2 linked regions of the Homo sapiens genome follow. The protein of the gene in region 2 purifies or fractionates together with the protein of the main gene of each other region. This does not show direct contact. Each region holds a gene or a part of one and is shown on either strand. Other genes may lie near its edges.

What was found.
Region 1: the proteins of PNO1 (region 2) and UTP14A purify together in Homo sapiens (affinity purification with mass spectrometry; 3 studies listed by BioGRID and IntAct, with this or other methods). This does not show direct contact.

The regions. Positions count from the first base shown.
Region 1 is NC_000023.11:129,923,138-129,930,164, reverse strand, and holds the end of UTP14A (U3 small nucleolar RNA-associated protein 14 homolog A), read right to left. Parts: intron 5,371-7,027; coding exon 4,970-5,370; intron 4,247-4,969; coding exon 4,053-4,246; intron 3,926-4,052; coding exon 3,826-3,925; intron 830-3,825; coding exon 557-829; 3' UTR 413-556; downstream 1-412. UniProt on the Homo sapiens protein: May be required for ribosome biogenesis.
Region 2 is NC_000002.12:68,167,866-68,174,892, reverse strand, and holds part of PNO1 (RNA-binding protein PNO1), read right to left. Parts: intron 1,547-7,027; coding exon 1,476-1,546; intron 159-1,475; coding exon 91-158; 3' UTR 1-90. UniProt on the Homo sapiens protein: Part of the small subunit (SSU) processome, first precursor of the small eukaryotic ribosomal subunit.

The DNA.
Region 1 (7,027 bases), on a different chromosome or scaffold from region 2:
GGGAAGCTCACACATGTGAAAAAAATGGCTGTGGCTAGACTTGTGGGGACAGAACCCAGCTTCGGCACCGTCCTGGTCTTAGGATCAGTCTAGGGCAGAATCCAATTGCAGTTTGTACATCCTCTTTCTAGGTTCAGAGGTTAAAATATACAATATTTTATCATTATTAACCCTGTCTCTTCAAGTTGGCAGTTATTAATGGTGGATCATATCTGATGTGATATATTTAAGGTTACAGACTACAGTTAACTTTCTCCATTTCGATTTAGGACCAACTACATAATCCTTGGTAAGAAAAGGAGGTGGCCCTGACAAGTGCAACTCGAGAAATGCAATGCTGTAGAGTCCAAAGGTGTCTGACTTGAACGAAATGATCCCACTGGGGGACAATGCAACATATACTCCAGGTAAATAGATTAAAAAATGCCTTTATTTTTAAAATGTGGCTTAACTACATGCAATGTACTGAGCCAGTTTTGGAATCCACCCTGTATCAGAGTAAAACTGGACCAAAGGAAGTGAAGTCAGGGCTCCTGGCTGTCACTCCTCCAGCAACTCAATCTACAGAGCATTTCTTCAGCTGTTTTTTGTGACGTGTGGTGATTCGTTTTGGATTCCTCTGTATGACAGACAGGTCCGACCTTGAGGAAGACCGGTAGCCCACGTCTTCTGCTTTTATGGGGTTAATGATATGGCCTGGCTTGGTGACGACCTTGGGAGTAGTCAGCTTTTGGAAAGCCCTCTGGGTGTTCCATGTGGATCCTATGGGGGTCTGGATGGTCCTTTCAAATTGCCAATGGTGGGTAAATGGATATGGAAGCACTCGTACCTGGAAAGGAAGGAGAATGATTTGGTATGAGGCAGGCCTGGGGTGCAGTTGTATACTGTAATGGCAGCTTTCATCAGGTACTGTTTTGGTACAGGCCACGGTTCCACATGATGACTGCAAGTGAAGAGACTGAGAGGTCAAGGCGTCCCATTGCTCCCATCTGCCCTTAGGAATTCAATCTGTTTGATGACATTTGGGAGTAGGGGGGCCTGAGTTGGCTCTGGATCCCCCATCTATTCAACAATTCAGGGTCTGAAAAACCACCCTGACACTGCCCATCTTTGTTTTTCTTTTTTTTGAGACAGAGTCTCACTCTGTGGCCCAGGCTGGAGTGCAGTGGGGTGATCTCTGCTCACTGCAACCTCTGCCTACCAAGTAGCTGGGATTACAAGTGACACTGTCCCTATCTAGCTACAGGAGCTCCAGGGCTGTTGTCCCAGAGTGAGCTTTCCTATGTAACACTGTGACTGCAAGAATCCAGACCATTGTGTATCCCTGTGGATTTTATGACTTTTCTACCCTCTTTATGCTTTCAGTCTCCTCCTTCCCTCTCTTAGGATTGATATTTTTTTTTTGTTTTTTGAGACGGAGTCTCGCTCTGTCGCCCAGGCTGGAGTGCAGTGGCACGATCTCCGCTCACTGCAAGCTCTGCCTCCTGGGTTCACGCCATTCTCCTGCCTCAGCCTCCCGAGTAGCTGGGACTACAGGTGCCCACCACCACGCCCGGCTAATTTTTTGTATTTTTAGTAGAGACGGGGTTTCACCGTGTTAGCCAGGATGTCTTGATCTCCTGACCTCGTGATCCACCCGCCTCAGCCTCCCAAAGTGCTGGGATTACAGGCGTGAGCCACCGCGCCTGGCCAGGATTGATGTTTTAAGGAACCCGAATCCTGAACTCTACCAGGCCGTTACACTTAGTTTCATCTTTTTTTTTTTTTTTTTTTTTTTTTTGAGATGGAGTCTCGCTCTGTCTCCCAGGCTGGAGTGCAGTGGCGTGATCTCGGCTCACTGCAAGCTCCGCCTCCCAGGTTCACACCATTCTCCTGCCTCAGCCTCCCTAGTAGCTGGGACTACAGGGGCCTGCCACCATGCCTGGCTAATTTTTTTTTGTATTTTTTTTTTTAGTAGAGATGGGGTTTCACTGTGTTAGGATGGTCTCGATCTCCTGACCTTGTGATCCACCCGCCTTGGCCTCCCAAAGTGCTGGGATTACAGGTGTGAACCACCATGCCCGGCCCACTTAGCTTCATCTTCTTTTGGCACCACAGAATGTAGAGCTGGAAGGCCCTAGATATTGACAATGGTCATCTCCCTTGGCCTGAAGATTTGGCTTAGAGGGGGGAAGTGATGGACCTAAGTAAATGAGGAGCAGCATTGGAGAACAGAACCCAAAGCTCCTGTTTCCTTGCCTGGTACTCCTCCACCACATTGCTACCTTCAGACATTAAATAATCTTTCAACACTTCCCCAGTGGCCAAAGGAGGAAAACACGTAAGCAGAAAATGGGGATGTAAAAATCAGTAGTCTTTGGCAGGGTACGGTGGCTCACACCTGTAATCCCAGCACTTTGGGAGACCGAGGCAGGCAGATCACTTGAGGTCAGGAGTTCAAGACCAGCCTGGCCAACATGGTGAAACCCTGTCTCTGCTAATAATACAAAAATAAGCTGGGTGTGGTGGCGCATGCCTGTAATCCCAGCTACTCAGGAGGCTGAGACACGAGAATAGCTTGAACTTGGGAGGTGGAGGTTGCAGTGAGCTGGGATCGTGCCACTGCATTCCAGCCTGGGTGACAGAGTGAGACTCCATCTGAAAACAAAACAAACAAACAAAAATCAGTAGTCTCTGGAAACATTCAGTGGAATACTCAAGAGAAGCTAAGTACTATCAGGTGGTCCTGGTAGTAGCAAAGGAAACAGATTCTCTTTAAGTTAAGGGAATGTCTTATTTGGGTTGACGGCTACATCTGTGCTTGTCAACCAGGGCAACAGAAAAAGAGAACACCTGGACAAAGTATTCAGTCTCAGAAGTCCCCCCTAGGCACCTTGAAGCACTTTATTCTACTGCATGTTGGAACCTGCAGTAACTTATTAAAAAGATGAAAATCAGGGGAGATTCCTAGAAAACTATTTGTCAGTTTGCCATGACTGTATTAAAAAAACAAACAGACCCCTGGAAGGGAAGGGTGGTCTTTATTGAGCTCCATACTCTACCCATCACCTGGAATCCTGGCCCACTGAAGCACCCTTTCCCCCCTTCCCTTATCGTGTAACTGCCTATTTTCTAGTTATATAGGTTTAATTGGGACTGCAGTAGTTATGATTCAGTTTCTGCAGTGATTGGTTCACAAAATAAGATCAAAAAGAATGTTATTGAAATGTGTATCTTCTTACCTCTGTTCTGTAGCCATTAATTCTTTATTCCTTCCGAGGGAAAAATGTAACTCATTTCAATATACTGGCTGGGGACAGATCTCAGAATTGAAGGGAACATAAAGGTCATCTAGTCCAATCTCGTTCTTGAGTCCCCTTTACACATTCTCATACTCCCAGAGCAGCCTTGAATTCTGTATGTCCTCTAACTTCTACTTTATGTGACTTCATACAATAACCTTCGATATACTTGAACACCGTAATCACGCTCAAATTTTCTTCTCTTGTAAACATCCCTAGCTCATTATCATGTGACACAACTTACAATCTTCTCATTCTCCTGAACAAGTACCGGTTTGTCTTCATTTTTCTTAAGCTACAGCTTAAACCTTATAGCCTCTGTTTGAGCATTACCTTGACTCTAAACTTTTTTCCTGGCCAGTAATTAAAACAGCGTAGTCTATCTGAAATGATAAATCTAACAGCCATTCAGTGAAAACAACAGATTTGATTCTGCGGTCAAGATCACACGTCTCTCTTGACTACAGATCACTAGAATACTCCTCTCAAGCAAGAGAGCCAGGCAGTAACAAGCAGGCAGCTAAAGAGCTCTCTAAGCTCTCACCTGATGAGCAGCTGCGTGGATGTTGCGCTTCTCATTGATAATCACATTTGGCAAATTCTTATCTTTTCTTGGAGGACCCTCAGGGGCTTTAATGAGAAACCTGGAAAGCAAAACAACAGGACATCTGACTAGGAGCATTAAGGACTTAGTCAAAAGGGTAGGGAGGACACCGAAGGGCGAGGGGAGAACCCGGTGCCCTTTTGACAGACTTTCTTCGGCATTCTTACCGGCGTCTTTTCTTGGCACTGGGCTTTAGGCCCACACCACCCCACTCGCCCCAGCCAGGTAGTGTCAGGTCCACGTCCTTTGGCTTACTCGCCTCCACAGCTTCCCTCTTCTCTTTCAAGAAATCTCTGATGACATCATCCCCAGCAAAAGCTTCCTTTATCATCTGCCTATGGTTTCTCTCCTCTTCATCTTCCTGGGAAGAAACAAGCGAGAGCTACAGCTTGGCTTATGAGCTGTGGTTCATGGCGAGAACGCTTGAATTTCGGGTCGTGACATTTTAGCGCCCCCTAGGGGGAAGTGCTGAACAATGATGGTCTTGCGATACAAACCAGTGCACAGCCAATCATGCTCAAATTTTCTTCCCTCTAGGGTAAATATCCCTAGCTCATTATCATATGACACAATTTTAAACTTTTCAGTAAGGAAGCTGCAGGGTGGAGGAAGGAATGGCCCGTGTTAGCAGCAGGAGCTCTAAGTGGCCAGACTGTAGGCTTCCTCCAGCTTATATCCCTGAAAAGACAGGTGCCAGGACGCTTCACTTTAAGTTTCAGATTAACTGGGGAGTCTTAGACCATCTGAGATCCCACTGAATAAAACTTTCGCAACAGTTCAATGACTCACCTTCAAGTTGTCCTGCCTGGGATCTGGTCAGAACTCTGAGTTACTCCCTCTTACCTCTGAGAGCAGTTTTAGAGTCACCCCAGAGGAGTTTTTGTGGATCAGGCTTTCGGAAATAGGGGTCTTGGCAGCACCCATATATCTGCATCTATTAAAACGTCACTGGGACTAGCCTGGCCCTATACTATTCTGGACCTCTAAACTACTGAAATGTGCCCCCAGCAAAACAAAGCTTCATTACTCCTTGCGCAAGAACGACACTTTCTGAACAATGGCCCACCACCCTGGCTCTGCTCACCAGCTCCTCTATTGTGGGAACTGCCAAAGACTTCACGGAGGGAGATTGTGTGGTTAGGAGGTTCTGTAGGTCGATCATTTGCTCCTTCTTTTTCTTCTCCTTAGGGGCATCAGGGCGATTATTTGGGGTCCTCTCTGACTGCTGCCCTTCTAACACAGGTCTGGGAAGCTCCTTATTTTGAAAACATTCTTCTTTTCCCAGCTCTTCTAGCTCTTCCAGCGTCTGTACTCTCTCTGGTCTCTGTAGCAACAGGGGCTCCTCTTCTTCTGGGGCAGGTTCCTCTCTCTGGACCTGGGGAATAGTCCCCTCTGAACTTGCTTTTTGCTTCCTGGACTGATGGTTTTCCTTCAATTTCTGAGATAGTACTCTCAATTCAGACAGCACCTCCTGGCTGCCAGAATCTGGGGGAAAAAAGAATGAAAACTGTCAGAAAATGAGGTTTGTACGTTGTCTGGTCGGTAAGCATTTGTTGAGCACCCACCAAGTGCTAGGTACCACATAAGACATTATAAAAAGGACAAACGGGGAAAAGAAGATTCTGTACATTGAATCTCCTAGACAGTACACTAATCATAGCAGGCAACGGAGTTTGGTAATTAAAAGTAGCATGTGGCCAGGTGCGGTGGCTCACACCTGTAATCCCAGCACTTTGGGAGGCCGAGGCGGGCAGATCATGAGGTCAGGAGATCGAGACCATCCTGGCTAACACGGTGAAACCCCATCTCTACTAAAAATACAAAAAATTAGCTGGGCATGGTGGCATGTGCCTGTAGTCCAGCTACTCAGGAGGCTGAGGCAGGAGAATCACTTGAACCAGGGAGGCAGAGGTTGCAGTGAGCCGAGATTGTGCCACTGCACTCCAGCCTAGGTGACAGAGCGAGACTCCGTCTCAAAAAAAAAAAAAAAAAAAAAGTAGCATGTGAGATGTTGGATATGGTGGCTCACGCCTGTATGCCAGCACTTTGGGAGGCCAAGGGGGCAGGATAGCTTGAGCCCAGGAGTTCGAGACCAGCCTGAACAACATAGTGAGAACTCATCTCTACCACCTCCACCCCTCCAACAACAACAAAAAATTTCCAGGCATGGCGGTGTGGATCTGTAGTCCCACCTACTTGGGAGGCTAAGCTGGGAGGATTGCTGGAGCCAGAAGGTCAAGGCTGCAGGAAGCTGTGACTGTGCCACTGCATACTAGCCTGGGCAACAGGGCAAGACGTCTCAAAAAAAAAAAAAAAGTAGCATATTGGAAGCAGACGTCCTGGGTCCTATTCCCAGCTTTGCCAATGATCCACTGTATAACTGGGACTGTGGCTTAAGTTCCTCGTGCAGTAAACCCTGCTTGGGAAGATTGCCCCAAGTTCCAAATTTTAAAAAAGGAAGCCACTTTAACAGGTGGCTTCTCAATGTAACTTCATTGTAATTTATGCTTCACTGCTTGTAAAAACCCTATCCAGGATTTTCATCTTGACTCAAGAATTTCTACTCCATATCTTAAAGCAGTATTTCATAATCTGCTGTGGCTGAGTCAAGGGATGAAGTAGCTGCTTTATCCAGTGGATGTAGCTCACACTTTCACTGGCAACATCTGAGCAAATAACACTAGTCTCAAGAGTCTGGAGGGGCTGGCTTGGCACAGTGGCTCACACCTGTAATCCCAGCACTCTGGGAGGCCGAAATGGGTGATTCACTTGAAGCCAGGAGTTTGAGACCAGCCTGACCAACATGGCAAAACCCTGTCTCTACTAAAAATACAAAAATTAGCTGGGCGTGGTGGCATATGCCTGTAATCCCAGCTACTTGCAGGCTGAGGCAGGAGGATTGCTTGAACCTGGGAGGTGGAGCTTGCAGTGAGCCGAGGTTGCACCACTGCACTCCAGCCTGTATGACAGAGACCTGTCTCAAAACAGTCTGGAGGGAAACCTGGCAGTGACATGCTTCTAAACTGTCTTTTTCATTGACTCAAGTTGCCTCCATTCCCAAGTTGATCCTGCTGTCTAGCTTTGGCATGAAGCCATTGTAGCTCCTTAGATCTGGCCTTTGGACACATGTACGTTTATTTCT
Region 2 (7,027 bases):
GAAATTGTTCAGCTGGTTTCTTGTGACCGACCACTGTAAAGTATTTTTCACCAGAGTCCAAAGGCAAGATAAAAAGTCTCTGACTTGAAATCAGAATCGATCTGCTGATCTGCTAGCCACAGCTCGAATATTGCCATAAACCTTGGAAGGAGGATTTCCTGCAAAGGGGAAAAAAAAGTATATACACAAATAAACTCACATTTATAGCGCCTACAGTTGTCCCTCAGTGTCTAAGGAAGACTGGTTTCAGGACTCCCACAGACACCACAATCCTTGGATGCTCAAGTCTCTTACATAAAAAATATGCACATTAACTACCCACATCCTCCCATATACTTTAAATCATCTCTAGATTACTTATAATACCTAATACAATGCAAATGCTATGTAAATAGTACTGTATTGTGTTTTAAAATTTGTATTATTTTTAATTTGCCATTATTTTTATATATTTTTTTTCTGAGTATTTGATCTGCCATTGGTTCGATCCGCAGATGTGGACCTTGCAGACAGAGGGCAGACTGTACGTGAAAAAGGGTCTAGAACCCTAAAAAGAACAGAGACATTTTAATTGGAAATTACAAAAAAAAAAAAAAAAAAAAAACCTTAACAGAAATAATACCCAAATATTCTCCAAAAAATATTTTAAACTTCTAAGAGCGAAAGGCACTGAGTTGTTAAAATATTTCAAAAAGAAGCCAATCACTGAGGCCTGAGAACCAGAAAATCCCAATTTTCTGAGCAAGCCGCTAAGATCCTGCAACTCTTATCAGAAAGTACTGACTTTGCTGCAGGATCAAGAAAATGGGTTAAGTGGATCAATTAAATTGCCTGAAGCTGTTCAGCAGCTCTTCCTTTGTTAAACCTAAAATGTGATGTTCCCTGCTATTCTGGAATGGTTTTTCTCTGCACCTTATCAAGAAGGCAGCAAAGATTTAAGCAATATTACCCAATAAACACCTTCTCTTCTCTTGCAGACAAATGGAATCTAAGCAAAAGTATTTCTACTTCTGGCTGGGCGTGGTGGCTCACGCCTGTAATCCCAGCACTTTGGGAGGCTGAGGTGGACGGATCACAAGGTCAGGAGTTCGAGACCAGCCTGGCCGATATGGTGAAACCCCGTCTCTACTAAAAATGCAAAAATTAGCCAGGCAAGGTGGCAGGCGTCTTTAGTCTCAGCTACTCATGAGTCTGAGGCAGGAGAATCGCTTGAACTTGGGAGGCAGAGGTTGCAGTGAGCCGAGATCGCACCACTGCACTCCAACCTAGGCGACACAGCGAGACTCTGGCTCAGAAAAAAAAAAAAAAAAAAAAAATTCTACTTCCTTCTCTAGGCCCACCTTTGCCAACTCCCAAGGGTTTCTACTTGCGATCTTTAATATTACCCTAAATTGCTTTGCAAATGTGGTTTTGACTTCCTCAATTAACTTCCTATCCCTCCCAGAGAAAACACCAAAGAAAGAAACTGCTATTACCCAAGATTAGGTTGCAAATGGCAGTTCTTGCCATCTTGATATTTTGGAAGGAGCCAAGGATGTGAACTTTCCTGAAAGAAATAAAATGAGACAAATTAGTGGCTGGGATGCAATGACTCACACCTGTAATCCCAGCACTTTGGAAGGCCAAGGCAGGTAGATCATTTGTGGCCAGGAGTCTGAGACAAGCCTGGACAGCATAATGAGACGCCATCTCTACAAAAAAATTCAACAGTTAGCTGGGTGTAGTAGCACGTGCCTGTAGAGTGCAACATGCCAACCTGAGTGACAGACCAAAACCCTCTCTCTTAAAAAAAAAAAAAAAAAAAAAAAAGACATTGTAGACAAAAAAGCATTTCCTTACCTAAGTCCTGTACTCCAAAAATGCTGGAAAATCATGATATTTGAGTCAGATTCTTTAATGAGGGCAGTGGTTATGGCTGCACAACTCCATGAATATACTAAAAACCACTTTTTAAAAGGGTGAATTTTATGGTATATGAATTGTATCCCAATAAAAAATTATTAGAAAAGACAAAGAATTGTTTGAAAAAGAAAAATTTGTGAAGATTCTTGGTTAATGATGGCTCCCATCCTATGAGTGCTTTATGTGCCAGGGCTTTCTATGCATGCCCTCATTAATCCTCACATGACCTTCCTGTTTTACGGATGAGGAGAGAAGTTTATAAGAAATCAAAAAGCCTGCCCAAGACGACACACTGGCAGAGCTGGTTACTGAATACCCATAAATGCAATACTGTACTCAATTTCAACATAATTGGTTTTCAACTGCAAAGTTTCCTAAAGATTATCTAAATTTCTTCAGGGCTCTGAGGATCATTTAGACCCTTTTAATGGGCATTCTTTACTGAATGACAAAACTGACAAGATACAATTTTGCCTTTTTGAGTCCATCTTCCAAACTGTTTTCACTGTGCCCTGTACAAATCAGCTAAAGCTTCTATATCTTCAACCCCTGTTAATATTCCCTTCACCTTCTGGCTTCAACTAAGGCCAGATCTCAAATGGTGGCCAGTTCTTCCTCCACAAACCAGGTACCTCTGGGCCTGGGGGAGGAGCAGGTGTCTTCATGCCACATCCAGACCACATGCTCTCCCTCTTGCCTCCCTAAAAACCCTTTGGCTTTGGATCTGCTCTGAGGCCACATCACCCACCACCCTGCCTGGCTGCGGTCCTCAGCTGCCCCTACAGATCACCTGTGAAGATGTTAGCTCTTGGCTTGCTTTCTCTTGCTATTCCCCATCACCATGCTCGATCATGTCAATACCCATGAAGATGATAATCCCAACATGCCAGCCTCTCAGGTCCTTGATATCCTTTATGCCAACATGGGGTCTTGTTTTCCACCCTACTCCAGCCTCTTCCATCCATGGTCACACCCTGGACTTGGTCATTACCAAAAACTGCAACCCCCCCATAATTTCGATTTCAAACATCCAACTCTCCCTTCACCACTTTCTGTCATTCCACTCATATCAACACAAATAATCCTTCACCCCTACCCCAGGACCTCCCATCTATGGATCCTACTCACCTTCACTGCCCTTCGCCCCCTCACATCCCACCTCCCTTCCTCTGCTCACAATCATCCAATGACTTCCTATTCACTCCGAGTAAAAGCCAAAGTCCTTATGATGACCTCAGTGAGGCCCTATTATTTTTGACTCATCTGTCACTCTCCGCTCTCTCCCTTTCATCCTTGGTCAAGCCTCCTCGCTCACTGCCAGATGTGCCCTCAACTCAAGATCTTTGTGCTTTCCCCTTCCTCTGTAATGCTCTTCCTCCAGACACCTGCAGATGAACAAAACAAACATTTACAAATGCTCCTTCCTCAAACTCCACTAAAATGACAGGAAAGATGTAAGCCCAAAAGGAAGAAGAGAGTAATAACAGTAGCAAAGTCCAAAAAGGTGGAAAGCAGATGGAGGAGATGGAACTGACTGTGCAGACCGAAGTCAACTGATGCCTAAATCAGCAGCAGGAATATCAAGAAGCAGAACTCTGGGAAAGAGACTCCAAGAGGCAGGGGACAGGGAACCCAGGATGATGGCTGTGCAGCCAGAATGCACGCAGAAAGCATGGGGGCGTTTTTGGAACAGAACATCTCCAGGAGAGATTTCTCAAATATTAGATGCATTCGAATACATCAAGAGGAGATACAGACAACGTATAGCTTCTTACTGAATTAGTACGACGAAAATGAAGAAAGGACATAGACACATAAGAGTTACTTCCTCAAGTGAAAACAATGCTGCAAAAGAAAGATAAGGCAGTCACAGTATTTCACCTGGCTCAGCTATAAGTACACTGAGCACTGATTTCTGTTTTCAGGTAATACTGAACACGAATCTAACAAAAACCACAAGGGGACCATCAGGAGGACAGAGAAGAATAAATCGGAGTGACAGAAAGGCTGAGTGTGTGCAGTGGAAGTAAGGGGGTGAAAGACAGCTAAATCTTCATCTTTGATGGTAGAAAGTCAATAGTGAATCTGAAAAATAAGAGGCTGTATATGAACAAAATATCTGGAAATACAGAGACAAATAATTTTTTAAGATAAGCTAAAAGAGTTGAAATTGGTTCCCCTGAAAAGGGTGAAATGGAGGTAGGCAGTAGAAATTTTTGGCTTTTTTTTTTTTTTTTTTTTTTGAGACGGAGTCTTGCTCTGTCCCCCAGGCTGGAGTGCAGTGGCGCAATCTCGGCTCACTGCAAGCTCCGCCTCTCGGATTCTCGCCATTCTCCTGCCTCAGCCTCCCAAGTAACTGGGACTACAGGTGCCCACCACCACGCCCGACTAATTTTTTTGTATTTTTAGTAGAGACGGGGTTTCACCGTGTTAGCCAGGATGGTCTCGATCTCCTGACATTGTGATCCGCCCGCCTCGGCCTCCCAAAGTGCTGGGATTACAGGTGTGAGCCATCACGCCCGGCCAATATTTGGCTTTTTAAAACTATGTGTATGTTTAACTTTGATTAAAATTATTTAAAACAGAGCATGACAGATGAGGAAATAAAGACAACAAGAACAGATGGGAGTAGTTTTGCTGCACAAAGAACCAAAGTAATGGGGCAATAGTTGGAAAGGAATGGAGGCTTCAAGACACAGAGGCAACATCATTTCCCATCTGCTGTATTAAACATACCTGGAACCAATTGTTTTTAGTTTTCTATCTGGCTCACATTATACTTACTGTATTTTGCCAGGTTATTGGCAACTCATCAAAAATAACTTTTATAGGTACACAACAGCCCATCTAACAGCTTTATTATAATTAATATAAACTGTTAAACGTGGATTTCCAACTAGCCTGTCTACAGCAAAAGCAAGAGATAGTACATCTCTTAATTTCAAGTAGTCTGTAATTCAGTTTGTAAGAAAACACAAAAGATATAAGTAATTCAGTAGCAACATTATTCTCATAGCCACAAACTGAAAACAACCCAAAAGTCCATCTACTGTGACTGGATAAACAAGATGTAATACAGCTGACTTTTGAATAATAGGTTTGAACTGCACAGGTCCAGTTACACACAAATTTTTTTCAACACATATACTGGAAGATATTTTGGAGATGTGAAAAAACCCAGAGAGGAGCTAAGTATCGTAGAAATGTCAAAAAAATTAAGAAAAAGCTACGTCATGAATGCATAAACTGTATGTAGGTACTAGTCTATCTTATTTACTACCGTAAAATATACACAAATCTATTATAAAAAGTTAAAATTAAAACTTACGCACACAAACACAAGCCATATATGATGCCATTTGTAGTCAAGAGAAATGGAAACAAATGCAAAGATGCAGTATTAAATCATAACTCCATAAAATTAACTGTAGTGCATACTGTACGACAACTTCACAGCCACCACCTATTGCTCTTGTGGTGAGCTCAGGTGTTGCAAGTATCCACTTAGAATGCCATGTGATGCTGATCACATGTGATGCTGATTATCTCCCATAAGCAGTTTTGACTCTCCAATAAACTGTCTATCACAGTAGAAAGTGATTTCTCGCAGTTCTTGCCTATTTTTAATCTTAGTGCAATATTGTAAGCTTTGGGACCATAGGACCCACCCAACGTGGGTCCCACATAAAGTGCCACTAGTGATGTTGGGAGTGCTCCAAAGCAGCACAGAAAAGTCATGACAGTACAAGAAAAAGCTGAACTGGCCAGGCGCAGTGGCTCACACCTGTAATCCCAGCACTTTGGGAGCCCGAGGCGGGTGGACTGCGAGGTCACGAGATTGAGACCATCCTGCCTAACACGGTGAAACCCCATCTCTACTAAAAATACAAAAAAATTAGCTGGGCATGGTGGCAAATGCCTATAGTTGCAGCTACTCAGGAGGCTGAGGCAGGAGAATCCATTGAACCCGGGAGGTGGAGGTTGCAGTGAGCCGAGATTGCACCACTGCACTTCAGCCTTGGCGATAGAGGGAGACTCCATCTCAAAAAAAAAAAAAAAAAAAAAAAAAGAAAAAAGCTGAATTGCTTGATAGGTACTGTTGACTGAGGCCTGCAGTTGCAGTTGCCCACCACTTCAAGATAAATGACTATACCATAGGACCATTGTAAAAAAAAGAAAAGGAAATTCATGAAGCTGTCACTGCAGCTATAACAGCAGATATGAATACACCTGCAGTTTTGCCAAATACCCCTTTATCTTATAAAATAAAAATAAAGCCCCTAGGCGCCCAGGCAAGACAGAACAGACTGTGGCAATAAGATATCAAATTGTAAACAAGACCTAAGACCACCTGGGCAAGGGTTAAGTCATACACCCTACACTTAAAGAGTAAATGACATTCTAATTGCCACAGGATATTTTTTTTTCTCTAGCAGCTTAACAAGCACTGGCCTTGTGATAAACAATATTAAAACAATTACAGCTCACCAACAGCTAGATACAGATTGACCCCAGCTTCCCTCTTCCCACACTCTGTTCCACAAACAGTAACTACAGCTTTGATTGGACAAGAGACTGATCCCAGTAACATCTCCTGATAAGAGATCACTGACCATGGACTGGTACTACCAGCTTCCAGAGGCAGTGCATTCAGTTGTCATGTCCCTGTCCCTATTTCATCTTGTAACATACAGGATCTAATTGTCAGGTATTTTAAATGTTAAGTCTCCACCCCAAAGCGACCAGGGGTTGTACATTTACTCGGTATACAAGCATTAGGACCCCTCTTATATTCAGAGCTCCTCCTATAACCTGTTAAATAAGTATACTTGGCCAACGCATTCAGCATAAATTCCTGTCTCATCCTTTCCTCCTTCAGAGTGCCTGCTTTTGGTCTCTGCTGAAGGCTATACTTTCCAGCCTGTCAGAATGGCCACCCTGCAGACTGCAACCCTTTCTAAGAAATAAAGTTTCCTCTCCAAATTTATAGATCTTGTGATTCTTTTCTTGACAATCTCAAATTGGAAATGCAGCTTTTATGTGGGTGCAGGATTGTTCTAAGAAAGACACATCTATAGAGTCTAATATGATGGAGAAAAAAATTAAGTCATTATATGACAACTTA